Regions from separate parts of the Homo sapiens genome. Here region 1 is linked to region 2. A link means that fine-mapping ties the variant in region 2 to the expression of a gene that starts in the linked region. Tissue or cell type: whole blood. Region 2 holds a variant in brackets; the other region holds the start of a gene. All regions are shown on one strand. Distances are between the middles of the regions.

Region 1 (8,107 bases), 81 kb before region 2:
AAGAGTAAGTTGCTCTACATTCTTTTATTTGCATTTCACAGGTTACTTACAGTATCATTTTTTGTGATACAAGAGTGCCCTAAAGAAATAGATCACACTACAATAAAATGCTCACACAGCAAATGGAACGAGGTAACTTTCAAGAGTGAGATATTTGAATTACATTATGTATGCAGGAGTACTCCCTTTCTGCAGCTGATAACAATACCTCCATTTATTGAATGTTTCCTATGTGGCAGGCACCATGCTTAATGCTTTACAGACATTACCTCCATTTAATCTTCCCACCAATCATACAAGGCAAGTATTATTATTCCTATTTTCAGATGAGAAAAACAAAGTTTATTCTGCAAATATTTGTTGAACAGCAACTACATGCCGGTCTAAGCAAAGCTGAAGCTAAGATAAAGAATCCTGAAGTTTGGACACAGGCCTGTCTCTGCTCTTATCATGACCCCATCCTGCCTAACTGGAAAGAATGTTAAACATTTCATGTATTTGTATTATAGATTGTCTTCACCTTTATAGATTTTACTGTCTTTCATCATATGCAACTCTAAAATCTTTGAACTTTGTATCTGGAAGGGAACCTAGAACCTTACATTTTCCAAAATTTGAATTTTCTCAAATAAAATGTTCAAATTGATGTAGAAATGCCTGTTCTTTAAGATCTGTGTCAATCAGGAAAATAGCCTTAATAATTTTTATTGGAGACATTTCAAGGAAAAAACAAAATTCACACACATGAAACATATGTAACCATGTATTTTGTTAAACTATTGTCTTATATGAGATAAGATTTGAGCCTAAATCTTACCTTTCTTTCTCTCTGAAAAGAAAGTTAAATAGTCTCTGGCTATTACCTTTCCTTTTTTTGTGAAAAAATAAATAGGCTTTGGATAAATATGAATCGAAATAAATATGCTTTGGATAATATAATTTGGATAATCCAGATGAAAGGAAAAAACTTTTTCCTAGAGGTGATGATGATTACACTTTTGGGATTTTCTACAGTAGTGACAAATCTATATGTACAGAGCTGTGAACTTTGGATGTATATGAGGTAGAGATTGTGCCATGAGCCATAGTTAGTCATCTTGCAACTTTTCCAGACTGATGTAACTCTATTTTTTGAACAAATGTTATTTTGTTAAATAAATGCCCATTTAAACTTGTATACAAAGGTTATAATTATAGCAGGAAATTGTTGGGGGCAGAGGAGGTTAAATCTAGTTGTCCCGTCATACATTAGGAATGATTTCTTGGAAACCTCCTTCAGATTTTCTACTGAGGTTTGCTGTTTCGCTCTACTGTAGTTTCAAGTAAGAACTTTCCAATATTTTGGTTCTGACTGGGAGATTTGTTGGGGAGGGTGGGGATCAGTAGGTAACTGAATCAGCCCTTTCTGCTGATTCTGCACTAAGGAAGCCAAAAAGACATTGGAATCTGAAGATATCACTTAACATTATATGACTTGTAGGAATACATAAAAGTCTCGAAAGCCACATATGTAAGTATACATTTATAGTAGCCACATTAAAAAGTTTTTAAAAGGTGAAATTAATTTTAATGAAATATTTTATTTAACCCAATATATCAAAAATATCATTTCAACATGTTGTGAATATAAAAAATTATTAATGAGATACTTTATATTCTTTTTTTTTTTTTTTTACTAAGTCTGAAATCTAGAAAGAACTTCACATTTACAGCACATCTCAACTTTGACCAGCCAACCTCATTTGAAGTGCTCAGTAGCCATGTGTGGCTACTAACCACCGTATTAACCCATGCAGGTCTGGCGATCTGAGGCAGCTATTCTTTGAACAGCTACACTTAGAGTTTTCCTTTGTTAAACAGAGGGGAAAAGTAATCCTGCTTAGGGCAATATCAGCTTCTATGTTCAAGTAACTCTTTTTGCTACCACCTTCAAGAAAAATCCTCCAGCCTCATTTGATTTTTCCAAATTCTCCTAACCAAAGAGAGTGGTTGCACTGCTCTTGGATTTAATAGAAGAAATAAAAGAGAAAAAGTTTATTGTTAACAACAAAAAATCATTTTCTTTGCTTTTGGGGCAAAAGGAAGAATAATGTTCTTCTAAATAAATTCAATCAATTCATAAATACTTATCAAATTGATCCTCTGTGCAAGACATCTGTGGTAGTGGTACTTTAACTGGTTTGTTTGTTTGTTTGTTTGTTTGTTTTTGAGACAGAATTTTGATCTTGTCGCCCAGGCTGGAGTGCAATGGCACGATCTCGGCTCACTGCAACCTCCGTCTCCCGGGTTCAAGCGATTCTCCTGCCTCAGTCTTCCGAGTAGCTGGCATTACGGGTGTGCACTCCCGGCTAATTTTGTATTTTTAGTAGAGACCGGGTTTCACCATGTCGGCCAGGCTAGTCTGGAACTCCTGAGCTCAGGTAATCCGCCCACCTGGGCCTCCCAAAGTGCTGGGATTACAGGGGTGAGCCACCGCACCCGGCCACTTTAACCCATTATTAACAGTTCATGTAATGCTTAATTCACTGAAACGTGACCACCGCTCACATTACTTTTACAGATCAGGTAACTCTGTTTTAAAAGTTATTCCTCTGGTTCTCAAGGTTAACAGAGATGAATAAAAGTTGATACTGAAAATGGCATACAATTTGCTTTATTTTAAAATATTCATTCTTTGCGTGGGGGTAATTAGCACTGAACAGTGTTAGCCACATAACGGTCTCTCTTCAACTATGTATGTTTTTACTAATGCAAGAATGTTAACTGAAATAATTGATCAAAGGGTAGGGGGAGCTAATTTACTTTAAGCCAACCGAATTAACGAACTTCTTTTCGCTATAAGGAGTGGTCATGTGACTCTGCAATGTAAATGAATAAAGCATTTTGTACATAAATGCAAAATAGTACACAACTCCTTATCCTCCAAACTTCTGCAAGCACGTTTTACCGTCGGGAATTACACAGAGAAGGTGCTGCCAAATTAGCTGAGTTTGGGCCCAGGTTGGATTTGCAACACCTGAATATAGCATGTGAAGGGAAGTGACAAAGGCAAGAGCCAAGTGGCCCCATTCGCCTTCTTCCCCAGACCACGTTGAGTCTGCCCAGATGTTGTCCAACCTGAGCGGTCCCCCTGAGTCCAAAGCTTCGGGAGAAGGCGCGCAACGAGGACTTCCTGCCGCCTTCTCAGGCTCCCTAAACAGTTGGAGCCTCCCTAAATGGCCACGAGGTTCCCCGGCCTCGAGCCTGTGCCAAGGGGCGCGCTGGCGAAGGCAGCAGAAAGAGCCCAACACCTGCCTCTCGCAGGCCCAGCGAGAAACCTCGCACCGCCCGCGCAGACCTGGCCGGCTGGGTTTGGGGCTCTAATCTCATCCTCACACCTGCTTAGGGAGGCAGGCGAGGGTTCTCCAGGTGTCTGGGTCCCGGGAGGATGAAAGGAAGCTGTTAATAGGCGTGCGCTGGGAGCGCAGCAGCGGACGCGCCGTGGTCGCTGGGCGTGGGAAGACCGGGATGCCTGGGCCACGGCCTGAGGGTTTGAAGGGACAGGCCGGCTCGGAGATCTCCCTTTGCTTTTTCTCTTCCCCTCGCTGGGCGACTAGCCAGGGGCTGCAGTAGCTTTCCACTCAGCCCTGCGACTTTTACACATTTCTGCCCGGGCGCACTTAGCGCGCAGCGGCTCCTGGCGCAGTGAACACAGGGTCGAGTCCTCTTGGGACGCACCCCGGACGCCCAGGCCTTCCCCCCAAAGCTCTCGCCGTCCTGTGGGGCTCCGTCGCCGTCGGGGCATTGGGTTTCCTTAATCCAGGGCTTCCCCATCTTGGGCAGGAGGAGGAGTCAGAACCCCTCCCCTCCCTCTGTCCCCCTCCTCCTCCTCCTCCGCCCACGGCCAGCCTGATTTTTAAATCTAATCTCTTATTTAAAGTCAACAGAGGAGCAGGAACCCCGCGCTCCTGCCTACAAGATATTTTTAAATAATTCTCCAACCTCTACCGAGAGGGACAGCCTTAAGGAACCTCCCTGTTTTCCCCTCTTGAAGATTTAGGTAGCAGACGTGGGGCGGGGGGCAGCGGTTCCAGGGTCGCAGCTGAAGGCCGAGAGCTCTGCGCACTTGGGGAGGAGAATTTGGGCTGGGGGCGGTGCGGGGGAAGCGACTAATACAAGAGGAATTAATCCCAAATAGCCACAATTTAACAAAAGAGCGTCAACTTGAAAAGACTTGAATCAAACCGGGAGCCGAGCCCCCAGGAGGCTCCTAGGCACGAAGCCTCCCTTGCCTCCGTCGGGGGAGATGGGGGGCAGGTGATTTCCCAGCATGTGACCCTGAAGAGGGAGGGTCTTGGGCCATTACGGGATGCGCCCAGAGACTAGGCGCGTCCGCACGCACGCACCCCCGGAGGAGACAAGCCGAAAAGACACTCCGCACCCCTCCCCGGGTCCTTGGCTCGGGACTGCGCCCCCGGTACTTTGCCCACCTCCCTCCCCAGCTGGGCGGGGACCACTGTTCTCCCTCATTCCCAAGGAGCCTCCGACCTCCTTGGACCCTTGGCGGTGAAAGGCTCCCAGCCTTCGCCCCTCCTGCCTTTCCCATTTCTTTCCCCCGCCTCCCGCCGACGCCCCCAGATCTGTTGGGCTCGCCCTTCCTGAAAGTAGGCGAGGCCCAGAAGCTGAGGTTGGGGCGCAGAAGGAGGGGGGTGGGAAGAGGGAGGAGCGGAGCGCAGCGGCCGGGGGCGTGTCTTCCACTAGCCCAGCCCCTGGGTGCGCGCGGCGGTGGTGGCGGCGGCCGAGCCTCGCTTTGAGAGACAGGTATCGCTTAGGCGCCATGTTGTGAGCGGAAGTGGGGGAGCGCGCGGCGGTCGCTGTTCTGCTGGGAGCGGGCGCGGGAACCGGCGGGGGGGGCGGAGCCGTAGTCCCGGCGGCGGAAGGAGGAGAGGAAGAAAGGGGCGAGACCCGGTGCCCAGCGGAGGCGCGAGGCTCTCGCTCAGCGCGCGGGCGTCTCTGGCCAGGCGCGCGGCTTTCGGGCGGTCGGCGTCGGCGTCGAGCCCTCTCTGGGGCCGCCGCCGCTGCTGCTGCTGCTGCCGCTGCCGCTGCCGCTGCCGCCGCCGCCGCCGCCGCCGCCGCTGCCGTGGGGCTCGGGCGGCGACGGAGCGGGGCCGGCCGTGGGGCGGGCGGGGAGGGAGGAGGCGGTGAAGGCGGCGGGCCGGGGGGGAAGATGCCGCTGGCGCAGCTGGCGGACCCGTGGCAGAAGATGGCTGTGGAGAGCCCGTCCGACAGCGCTGAGGTGAGTGCAGCAGGGCGGCCGGGGCCGGCGCATCTCCTCCTCGCGCCCCCGCCGGCTCGCTTCGCTCCCCGGAGCTGGCCACTCGGCCCGTTCTGATCCCGCTCGCGTCTTTCCCCCGGGCTCAGGGTTTTGGTTTGGGTTGTTGGGGTGGGTCTATTGGCCGGTCTGTCTGTTCCTTCCATCCTCACCCTCACCTCCTTCCCTCGCTCGGGGGGCTGCCAGTGTGGTGGCGCGTGGGGTTTGGAGTGGGCGCTGGGGCTTTGCAAGAAGCCAATTTTAATCAACTTTGCGTGGGGGAAGCGGGAGGCGGAGCGGGGGCCGGCGGGGAGTTGGGAAGTTTGGCCCAGCCGGGTCGGGGGCTTTCCCGGACCTTGGCGACTTTGGGAGATGAGGGAGGGGTAGGGATCGGGTTCACCGGGGAGCAGGGACTCTCGAGTCCAGCCGAGGGAGGGGCTGCTGCGGGGAGACCGGCGCGCGGGGCACGGGCGGCGGCGACCTGTGGGGGTTTCGGGTAGGGGGTGCAGGGTTTTGCCTCCCCCTCGTCTGCCGCAGCGGTTTCTGCTGCTGCAAAGAAGAAAGCGGAAGCCTAAGGTCCCCTACCCCCTCCGTTTCTGAGGTCGCAGAGCTAGACCCCCGTCCCTGTGAGTTTAACTTGAGTTTCCTGTCCATGGAGGTGAGAGGGTGATATTCAAGGAGATCAGCGGCCGCCGTAAAAGGCTTTCTGGTTTTCCTCGCCCGGGATCTGGTGACCGTCCCTGAGTCACCCATCCTAGTGCCCAAAACCCAAACAATATACCCAAACAGGGCAAAACAGAATTTCCCCGGGCGCATCACTACACCGAGCTTTCCTGAACCGCCCCTATCCCAGAACAACTCGGGGTCTGCGAAAATAATCCAGACAAGACCCGTTCCAAGGTATCACCGCTCCTCTCCGGAGTGGAAAATCAATTCCTGATGGTGGCGCGTCTGTGATTCTTCCTTCTTGACTTTTTGCTGCCTTCTCTCCCCGCAGCGGACTTTAGGGGATTACAGGATGATAGGCTGCGTGTGTGTAATAGTTACTGAGTGAGTGACCCCATTTCTGGAAAGCATGACTGAAACGCGGGGGTGGAACGGGGCAGGCTCTGATGAGTGGTGTGCTTGGCGGCAGCCGCTGCCCTGCCGGCCTCCGCAGTGTGAGAAGTAGATAGGGTTACTGGTTACGTCAGTAAAACCGAGGCTCAGTTTAATCTTGAGATGCGGGACACTTGCATTCTCCGGTATAATGGAGAGGGCGGGGGATCAGTTCAAATCGCTTTTCACTTTTTCCCCCAGTCACCTCCGCTGCTGTATAACAATTTTGCTTGTTCTCCTTAACGCACGCAGAGTTGTAATAGTGCTTATGATTGGTGCTTAGTATTTTGCGACTTGGATCATACTTGTAAAACCTGAACTAAATGCTGCTCTTCAATGGAAAAGACATTGATATATGTTGAAAGAAAAGGAAAGAAAGAAAGGAAATCATGTTTTTAAGACTGGCAGAATCACAAGAACTTTATTTAAAATTGTTAACCAGACTAATACTATAAATATTTTATTAAAAAGCCAAATTTATGATGTTTAATAATCCTTTAGATGGGTAGTGTGAAAAACAGTATGCAAGAGCTCGTCATATTTTTCCCCAGAAAATTTTTTGCATTAAATAATATAGCTAAAAGGTTAATAAAATGTTCGCAAAGTACTGAACTTGTGGAAAGAAATTAAATTTGCTTTGAGCCTGACTTTTACATACAAACATTAACAATTGCAACTCAAGATCAGTCCACATTTCTGCTTGGCATGTATCAGTGTGATAGGAAAACAATATCGTTTAGAATTCCACCTTATCCTTTTTCTATCTGGAATGCATTTGGATAAGGAAGGACAAAACATATTTATTTAGCACCAACTGTATGCCAGGTACTGTGCTACATTACTATTTCATTTTATCCTTCCTGTGACCCAGCAGGGTAGGATTATGGTCCCCATTGTTATAGATTAGGAAACCAAATCTCAGAATTTAAAAGGTACAAAGATGATAAATAGTAAATGGCAGAGCCATAATTCAAAGCCAGGTGGATACAATTCATGTGCTTCGTTTTATATCAGGGTAGCTGTTCCAAATCTTTTGTGGAAAAATTCGGGGTATAAATAAGCCAGTAGTTAGAGGTCATCTATTTTCCAGAAACAAATAGAGTATTATAAGAGGTCTCATTTGGTAAAGCCTTGTTATTTCAGTTACTATCATGTTTTCCAGAACTTGACAGATAGGATTCCACAATTTGCTGTTTTCAAAGAATTTTCTTGCTATCCTGGCATAAAGTATGTCAAACAGAGCCAGTGTTGCCAAGATTTATTAAAATTAAATTCTAACAAATTGCCTTTAGATATTTAATTTCCTTTGCTTGTTCAGCTATTTCAAGTAAATTACTTCTGATACAATTTGGAAATATTGAAGACAGTGAGGGAAAGGTTGAAAAGTTCCACTCAGAGGTCTAATATTTTCACTATTATACCGTTTCCTCCCCCAGTAGGTTCCTATCAGATAATTGTATTTTACCAGAGTAACATAGTTTTTTTTAGAGTCATTTACTTGAGTGAATACATCAAAATATTTCTCTCCAGGTTAAAAGATTTCAGGATTGGTCTGTGTAGGAGTTTACATTTATGGTCTCATCCCTAGTACACTGTGAATTCTTGAAAGCAGACATTTTTCCCCCCCTCTCTGAATCCTCAGCATTCAGCACAATGCCTGGCCCTGACATATTGTGGACTTAATAAATATCTGCTGAATGAATCATGAAAGTCAGGAAT
Region 2 (8,107 bases):
AGGAAATGCTCATCTGGAACTCTTCTAAGTGATCATTTAGAAATTGTTATGCTTTTATATTTTATGTTTTTTTTATTGTTTTTGGATAAGTTTCATATGGTTTTGTTTTTATTCCCCAAATAACTGCTGAGTTTTCCTGATTATTTTCCCAACTTATAACTATTGTGACACAAAATATAATTATTGGTGAGAATGAATATTCAAGCATATAGTCCTTAGAAAAATTACTATAAACATAAGATTAAACATTCATAAAAATGTGTGTTTTATACTATTTAATTGAATATATTTACCATAGACCATTGTATTGGCATTGGTCATAAAGTTACATTAAAGTATGAGCCCTGTCTCAAGGCTTTAATAAGATCAGATGTAAATAAGATTGCTTATATTAAGATCTTAAACATACATGTCTAGATGATGCTATTAATTAGAAATAACACTTACTTGGTGAATTATACAAGTAAATACCATCATACAGAACTTGGGAGAAATTTAAATTTTTAGGCCAAATATTTTATGAACTGTTAAGGGTTTTTCAGATTCTTTTAAACTAGAACTCTGTTGTAATAAATATGACTAAAAATTAGTAACCATTGAAAAGGAATGTTGTTTATTGAGAGTGATACAGTTGACTTTTTCTTTCAAAGATACAGTATAAGCATGGTTATCTTAGAAGAATGCATTTGCTACAGAAGGCGTAACTAATGCCCTTTCAGCCATATTATCCTTTTTTCTTTCAGAATTACCGAGAATGACTTGAAGTTTTGTTTTTAGAACTGTTTTTCATGTATTCACTAGAAGGGAGGATGATTTCTACAGTACCTAATAATGCCCTTTATACTCTCTAAATGTGTTGATCTCTTCATAATCAAGCAGAATCAATATTAATATTTTTCATAACAGGTGCTTATGATAAAAGAAACTTGAAAAACATGTCCCTACTGAATTACCTTCAGTGGTAAACTTTGTTGTAATTATGTTTGCATTTATGAAATAGAAAGATTGGTAATATTTTTGTTATAGTAAAATTTTATAACAAAGTTTGACTTGCACATTTTTAGTTAAAATAAAAGTAAGGAAATGCCTATATTGTGGGATAGCTTTAAATATAAGTGAAACAGTTTATTGCTTGATCCCATACCTATCCAGAAATATTAGGTTGGTGCAAAAGCAATTGCAGTTTTTGCCATTACTTTTAATTACTTCTGCACCAACTTAACACAATTATTGGCTTACAGCTTAGTACTCTCTCCTTTCTGTAGCTCCTTGATTAATAGCATTACTCTCCACTCAAGTATCTGCTCAAGCCAGAAACCTGAGTGTCATTCTCCAGTTGTTCTTTATCATGACCCAGTGAGCTCACTAAATGCCCTTTATTTTCTCTGTAAATTTCTCTACCCTCCATGAATGTACACCATTTATGGTCTCCCTTGTCCTTGACAAGAAGCCCAAACTATTTGGAATGCCCTGTAGGCCCTTTGCAAACAGGCCTTATTCATTCAACATTTCTTGTTTGTACTGTACACTGCCAGACACTGAGCTATAAAGATGAATAAGGTCAAACCTTCTAGGAGCTCACAGTTTATTGGGGAAGAGAGAAAACCCTGGAGAATATGTATAGTGAAGGGAGGGGTCAATGAAAAACAAGGAGTATGGGGAAGGAGAAGAGGATTGTGTAGGTTGTGTCAGGAAAAAAAAAATAAGGAAACAATGATTGAGTCAGATACCTTTAAAATGACCAAGAGAGCTGGGCACGCAGTGGCTCACACCTTAGGGAGTAATCCCAGCACTCAGGGAGGCAGAAGCAAGAAGATAGCTTGAGCCCAGCAGTTCAAGACCTGCCTGGGCAACATAGTGATACCCTATTCTCCACAAAAAGGAAAAAAAGGCAAAATAAAATAACCAAGAGAATGACATGTCTGATGTTTTTGAATTAAATGTGTGGACCCTCTGTCTATTAATGCAGGCACTAGGGGGTTTAGTCAAACTACGTCTGCAGAAAGGCATTAGAAAGAGCAGCTGGGAAGAGTACAGGTGATTTGATTCTTTTCCTAATAATTTTCAAGTGCCCCTGGCATATTAATACAAGTTTATGGCATTGCCTTTGGGCTTTGTTATAAATGTGTGTCCAAAAAATAATTTGTTCCTCCTTTGCCTTTGCCATCTTATTCACAGTCTAAAGCAATGTTTTAGAGTAAATGTGGTGATCTGATGCTTAAGGATGTAATTTCAGTCTTAGCTTCTATAAATCTCTATTTAGTGTTCTTAAAAGATTTTCTTTGTTTTTTTCAGTATACTTCTTGATGAAGAAGGTCACATCAAGTTAACAGGTAAAAAAAAAATCCTCGTTTTATTAAAATATTTTCTCCTACAATATATACTTTCCTTTAAGGTTGATTGTGGTACAAATATTGAGTAATACACTGTATTAAAATTAAAAACTTGTATTAGGGCCAGGCGTAGTGGCTCACCCCTGTAATCCCAGCATTCTGGGAGGCTGAGGCAGGTGGATCACTTGAGGTCGGGAATTCAAGACTAGCCTGGCTAACATGGTGAAACCCTGTTTCTACTTAAAATACAAAAAAATGAGCTGGGCATGGTGGTGCACGCCTGTAATCCCAGTTACTTGGGAGGCTGAGGCAGGAGAATCACTTGAACCCGGGAGGCAGAGGATACAGTGAGCCAAGATGGCGTCACTGTACTCCAGCCTGGGTGACAGAGCGAGACTCTGTCTCAAAAAACAAACAAACAAAAAAAACTTGTATTAGAAATTTTAAATGATTAATGTCAGAACTCAAAGTTTAAAATTTACATGTGCAAATTTATGTAGGATATTTATGATATTTGTTTTGGCAGATTTCGGCCTAAGTAAAGAGTCTATTGACCATGAAAAGAAGGCATATTCTTTTTGTGGAACTGTGGAGTATATGGCTCCAGAAGTAGTTAATCGTCGAGGTCATACTCAGAGTGCTGACTGGTGGTCTTTTGGTGTGTTAATGGTAAGGTTTGAATTTGGGATTTTTTAGAGGGGAAGGAGATTGTTAAGTGAGGATCAGCAGTGAATGTTAAAGAAACTGGTGTTTTTATTTTCTTTATTTTATGCCATATGTAATAAATAACCAAGAAACATTATTGCATGCAGTATAGAAGGACTATGAAATCTGTTAGCTGCGTCTATCTCATCCTAATTTGAAAGGGCAAAAAAAAATATTACCATAGATTTCCTGCTAATAGTAACAATCTAAAGCATTAATGGTGTTTGGTCTTTTGGAGAAACTGGTCCAGAAATCTGTTAGTAAGTGACCCTTAAAATAAGTTCGTTTGGCCGAGTGCAGTGGCTCACACCTGTAATCCTAGCACTTTGGGAGGCTGAGGCGGGTAGATCACCTGACGTCAGGAGTTCAAGACCGGCATGGCCAACATGGCAAAACCCCATCTCCACTAAAAATACAAAAAGTAGCTGAGCAGGATGGCACACACCTCAGGAGGCTGAGGCTGGAGAATCGCTAGAACCTGGGAGGCAGAGGTTGCAGTGAGCCAAGATCATGCCATTGCACTCCAGCCTGGGCAACAGAGCGAGACTCTGTCTCAAAAAATATATAGTAAGTTCTGCCGGGCGCGGTGGCTCACGCCTGTAATCCCAGCACTTTGGGAGGCCGAGGCAGGTGGATCACTTAAAGTCAGGAGTTCGAAACCAGCCTGGCCAACATGGTGAAACCCCGTTTCTACTAAAAATACAAAAATCAGGCTGGGCGTGGTGGCTCATGCCTGTAAGACCAGCCTGGACAACATGGTGAAACCCTGTCTCTACTACAACTACAAAAAATTAGCCAGGCATGGTGGCACACACCTGTAATCCCAGCTACTTGGGAGGCTAAGGCAGGAGAATCACTTGAACCCAGGAGACGGAGATTGCAGTGAGTGAAGATCGTGCCACTGCACTCCAGCCTGGGTGACAGAGTAAGACTCCGTCTCAAAAAAAATAAATAAGTTCATATGAAATTGGCATATCTATCAAATTGTTCACATATCTACACTTTAAAATTGCCATTTGAAATGTGATTGATGAAGCTGAGCATGGTGGCCCATGCCTCTAATCCCAGCACTTTGAGAGGCTGAGGTGGGAGAATTGCTTGAGCCCAGGAGATGGAAGCTTCAGTGAGCTGAGATTGCACCACTGGGCTCCAGCCTGGGCAACAGAGCCAGGCCCTGTCTCAAAAAAAAAATAAAATAAAAATGTGATTGATTTCTACAAAAAAAAAAAAACTGTATAGCTCAGTTGTTTTAGGAATTATCAAGAACTTCAGTAACGAATATGGTAGAAATAGAAAACACTTGTTATGTAGCAATTTTAGAATATTTGGTTATAATTAAAATGATGCTTTTTTTTTTTTTTACCTTCTGGCCTTCAGATTTTATATTTATTGACTAACACTTCTGATTATTTTGCCTTTCTGTAGTTTGAAATGCTTACTGGTACACT[C/A]CCTTTCCAAGGAAAAGATCGAAAAGAAACAATGACTATGATTCTTAAGTAAGTACTCCCTTAATATAGATGTTTTGATGAGATTTTAAAATAAATGCTTCAGGCTGGGCGCTGTGGCTCATGCCTGTAATCCCAGCACTTTGGGAGGGCAAGGAAGACGGATCACTTGAGATCAGGAGTTTGAGACCAGCCTGGCCAACATGGTGAAACCCCATCTCTACTAAAAATACAAAACTTAGCCGGGCATGGTGGTACACACCTGTAGTCTCAGCAGTACTCAGGAGGCTGAGGTGGGAGAATCCCTTGAACCCGGGAGGTGGAGGTTGCAGTGAGCTGATATCACACCACTGCACTCCATCCTGGGCAACAGAGCGAGACTCTATCTCAAAAAAGTAAAATAAAATAAATGTTTCACACTAAAAAATGAGATTTTAGAGTGTTGGCTGTAGTATAAGAAATAACTAAGAAATTCATCAATATTACGTGGTTTGAATATGAACAGACTGCGTAGATTTAGAGTACTCATATTATCTTCATGTTAATAGTGAAATACTGAAAGCTTTACTTTTGGGATTTGTAATATGGCAAGGATGCCCATTATTTCACTTCTGTCCACATTGTCCTGGAAGTCCTAGCCAATATGGTAAGTCAAGCAAAAAAGTAAAGTATAAGGTTTAAAAAGAAGAAATAAAATTATCATTATTTAGATAACATGACTGTATCCATAGAAGATCCAGTCATCAGCCTGCACAACATAGCAAAACCCCATCTCTACAAAAAAATGCAAAAATTAGCCAGGCATGTTGGTAAGCACCTGTAGTCCCAGCTACTTTGTGGGGTGGCAGATGGGGGCTAAGACAGGAGAATCATTTGAGCCCAGGAGCTTGAGGCTACAGTGAGCTGAGATGGTTCTACTGCACCCCAGCCTGGGTGACAGAGCAAAACCCTGTCTCAAAAAAGAAAAGAAAAGAAAAGAAAATCCAGTGATCATATAAATTCTTAGAATTAATAAGAGTTTAGCAAAGTTACTGGATACAAGGTCAATAAACAAAAATCTATTCCATGTCTCTATACTAGGAATAGAAAATGGAATTTTTATCCGGGCACAGTGGCTCACACCTGTAATCCCAGCACTTTGGCAGGCCGAGGCAGGCAGATCACCTGAGGTCCAGAGTTCGAGACCAGCCTGGCCAACATGGCGAAACCCTGTCTCTACTAAAAATAGAAAAAATTATTCGGGCATGGTAGCAGGTGCCTGTAATCCCAACTACTCGGTAGGCTGAGGCAGGAGAATCACTTGAACCCGGGAGGCAGAGGTTGCAGTGCGCCAAGATCATGCCACTGCACTCCAGCCTGGGCAATAAGAGTGAAATTTCATCTCAAAAAAAAAATGGAATTTTCAAAGAGGACAGTGTTTACAACAATGTAAAAATTCTCAGATACCTAGTGATAAATCTAGCAGAAGTTGTGTAAGACCTCTGTGCAAAAAAACCAGAAAATTTTATTTAAAGAAATTTTAAAAGACCAAAATAACTTGAAAGAATATACCATGTTCATGTTATGACAGACCCAGTGTTGTAAAGATAACATTTTTATAGATCAGTGTTATCCACTAGAAATATAATGTGAACCAGCCAGGCATGGTGGCTCATGCCTATAATCCCACCACTTTGGGAGGCCGAAGTGGGCAGATTGCTTGAGCCCAGGAGTTTGAGACCAGCTTGGGCAACATGGCAAAACCCCATCTCTACAAAAATAAAAGATAAAAAAATTAGCCAGATGTGGTGGCACGTGCCAGTAGTCCCAGCCACTTGGGAGGCTGAGGTGAGAGGATCACTTGAGCCTGGGAGGTCAAGACTGCAGTGAGCCCTGATCACACCACTACACTCCAACCTGAGCAACAGAGTGAAGAGCGAGACCCTGTCTCAAAAAAAAAAAAAAAAAAAGAAAAGTAATGCGAACCACATACGTAATTTTAAGTTTTCTAGTACCTACATTTAAAAAAGTAAAAAGAGGCAGGTAATCCCAGCACTTTGGGAGGCCAAAGCGGGTGGATCACCTGAGGTCAGGAGTTCGAGACCAGCCTGGCCAACATGGCAAAACCCTGTCTCTACTAAAAATACAAAAATTAGCTGGGCGTGGTGGCACACACCTGTAATCCCAGCTACTTGGGAAGCTGAGGCAGGAGAATCACTTGAACCCGGGAGGCGGAGGTTGCAGTGAGCTAAGATCATGCCGCTGCACTCCAGCCTGGGTGATGAATGAAATTCATCTCAAAAAATAAAAAAAATAAAAAAGTAAAAGGAAAGTTAATTGTAATATTTTATTTAACCCAGTGTACCCAAGATGTTATTTCAGCATGTAACCAATGTTAAAAATTGATTGAGGTATTTGTTGTAAACTAATTTTTTTCATACTCATTTGAAATTCAATGTGTATTTTACACTTACAATGTGGATTGGCACATTTCAGGTGCTCAGTAGCCATATGTAGCTAGTGGCTACTATAATGGATGACAAAACTATAGTTTCAATGCAAATAAAATTAAAATCCTAACAACTTTTTAATGTGAATCTTGATAAACTGATTCTAATATGATAATACAAAGGACAAAGAGTAGCTAAAATACTCTCGAAGACCAAGATAGGAAGACTTGCTTTACCAGGTATTAAGTCTTATTATAACAGTAACTAAGATAATACAGCATTGAAACAAGTGTGGAAAGTAGATCTATGCAAAAGAATAAAGAACCCAGAAACAGATCTATATATGTGGACACTTAATTTGCGACCATTGGGAATTTCAGAGCAGTAGGGAAAGAATAGCCTTTTCTTAATAAATCATGCTGGAAAAGTTAAATATTCGTATAAAAAATAGGCAGGGAGTGGTGGCTCACACCTGTAATCCAAACACTTTGGGAGGCTGAGGTGGGAGGATCACTTGAGGCCATGAGTTAAAGAATATAAAAATTATCCAGGTGTGGTAGTGCACACCTGTAGTCCTAGCTACTTGGGAGGCTGAGGTGGGAGAATCGCTTGAGCCCAGGAGGTCAAGGATGCAGTGAGCCATGATCATGCCACTGCACTCCAGCCTGGGTAATAGAGCAAGATCGTGTCTCAAAAAAAATTTGCTTTAAAAGAATTAAAAATTTTTTTTAAAATTCCTACCTTCCACCATACATAAAAATCATTACCAATCTATCTAGAACCCCAATCAATAAGAAAAAGCCAACCCAATAAAAACATGGGCAAGAGACTTAGGGATCTGACAGAAGAGGATATTCAATGGCCAAAAAACTTATGAAAAGATACTCAACCTCGTTAATCAGAAAATGCAAATTAAAATCACAAGGAAATATCACTGCATACTCACCAGAATGGCTAAAATTAAAAAGATTGACAGGAGCATTCTGAACCATTTTTGGCCCAGACTGCTGCCCTATACAAAAATTTTAATAAATAAAAATAAAAAGACTGACAGTACAAAATGGTGGGATGTGAAGCAGTGGCAACTTTTATACATAGCTGGAAGGAATATCAATACTCATATAACCACTTTGGAAAGCAGTTTTTGTCCTTATCTTCTAAAGACAAATATATGTATACCCTCATCCAGTAATTC

What was found. PIP is the estimated chance that this variant, and not a neighbour inherited with it, causes the effect.
Region 1: it holds the start of RPS6KA3, and the variant in region 2 is fine-mapped to the expression of RPS6KA3 in whole blood (TOPMed, PIP above 0.99). The same link has a PIP of 0.9 or more in T cells and blood mononuclear cells.

What each region holds. Positions count from the first base shown.
Region 1 is chrX:20,263,732-20,271,838 of GRCh38, reverse strand. RPS6KA3 (ribosomal protein S6 kinase A3) reads left to right here and starts at 4,930. Exons shown (of 22, transcript NM_004586.3): 1 at 4,930-5,275. The coding sequence starts at 5,207. RefSeq lists silencers at 4,154-4,448, 4,870-5,089, 5,210-5,469 and an enhancer at 6,650-6,699.
Region 2 is chrX:20,182,723-20,190,829 of GRCh38, reverse strand. RPS6KA3 (ribosomal protein S6 kinase A3) reads left to right here. Exons shown (of 22, transcript NM_004586.3): 8 at 2,296-2,333; 9 at 2,860-3,002; 10 at 4,464-4,534. Among named protein-coding and RNA genes, the nearest start is that of EIF1AX, 45 kb to the right of the region's middle. The variant C/A (reference allele first, on the strand shown) is at 4,487.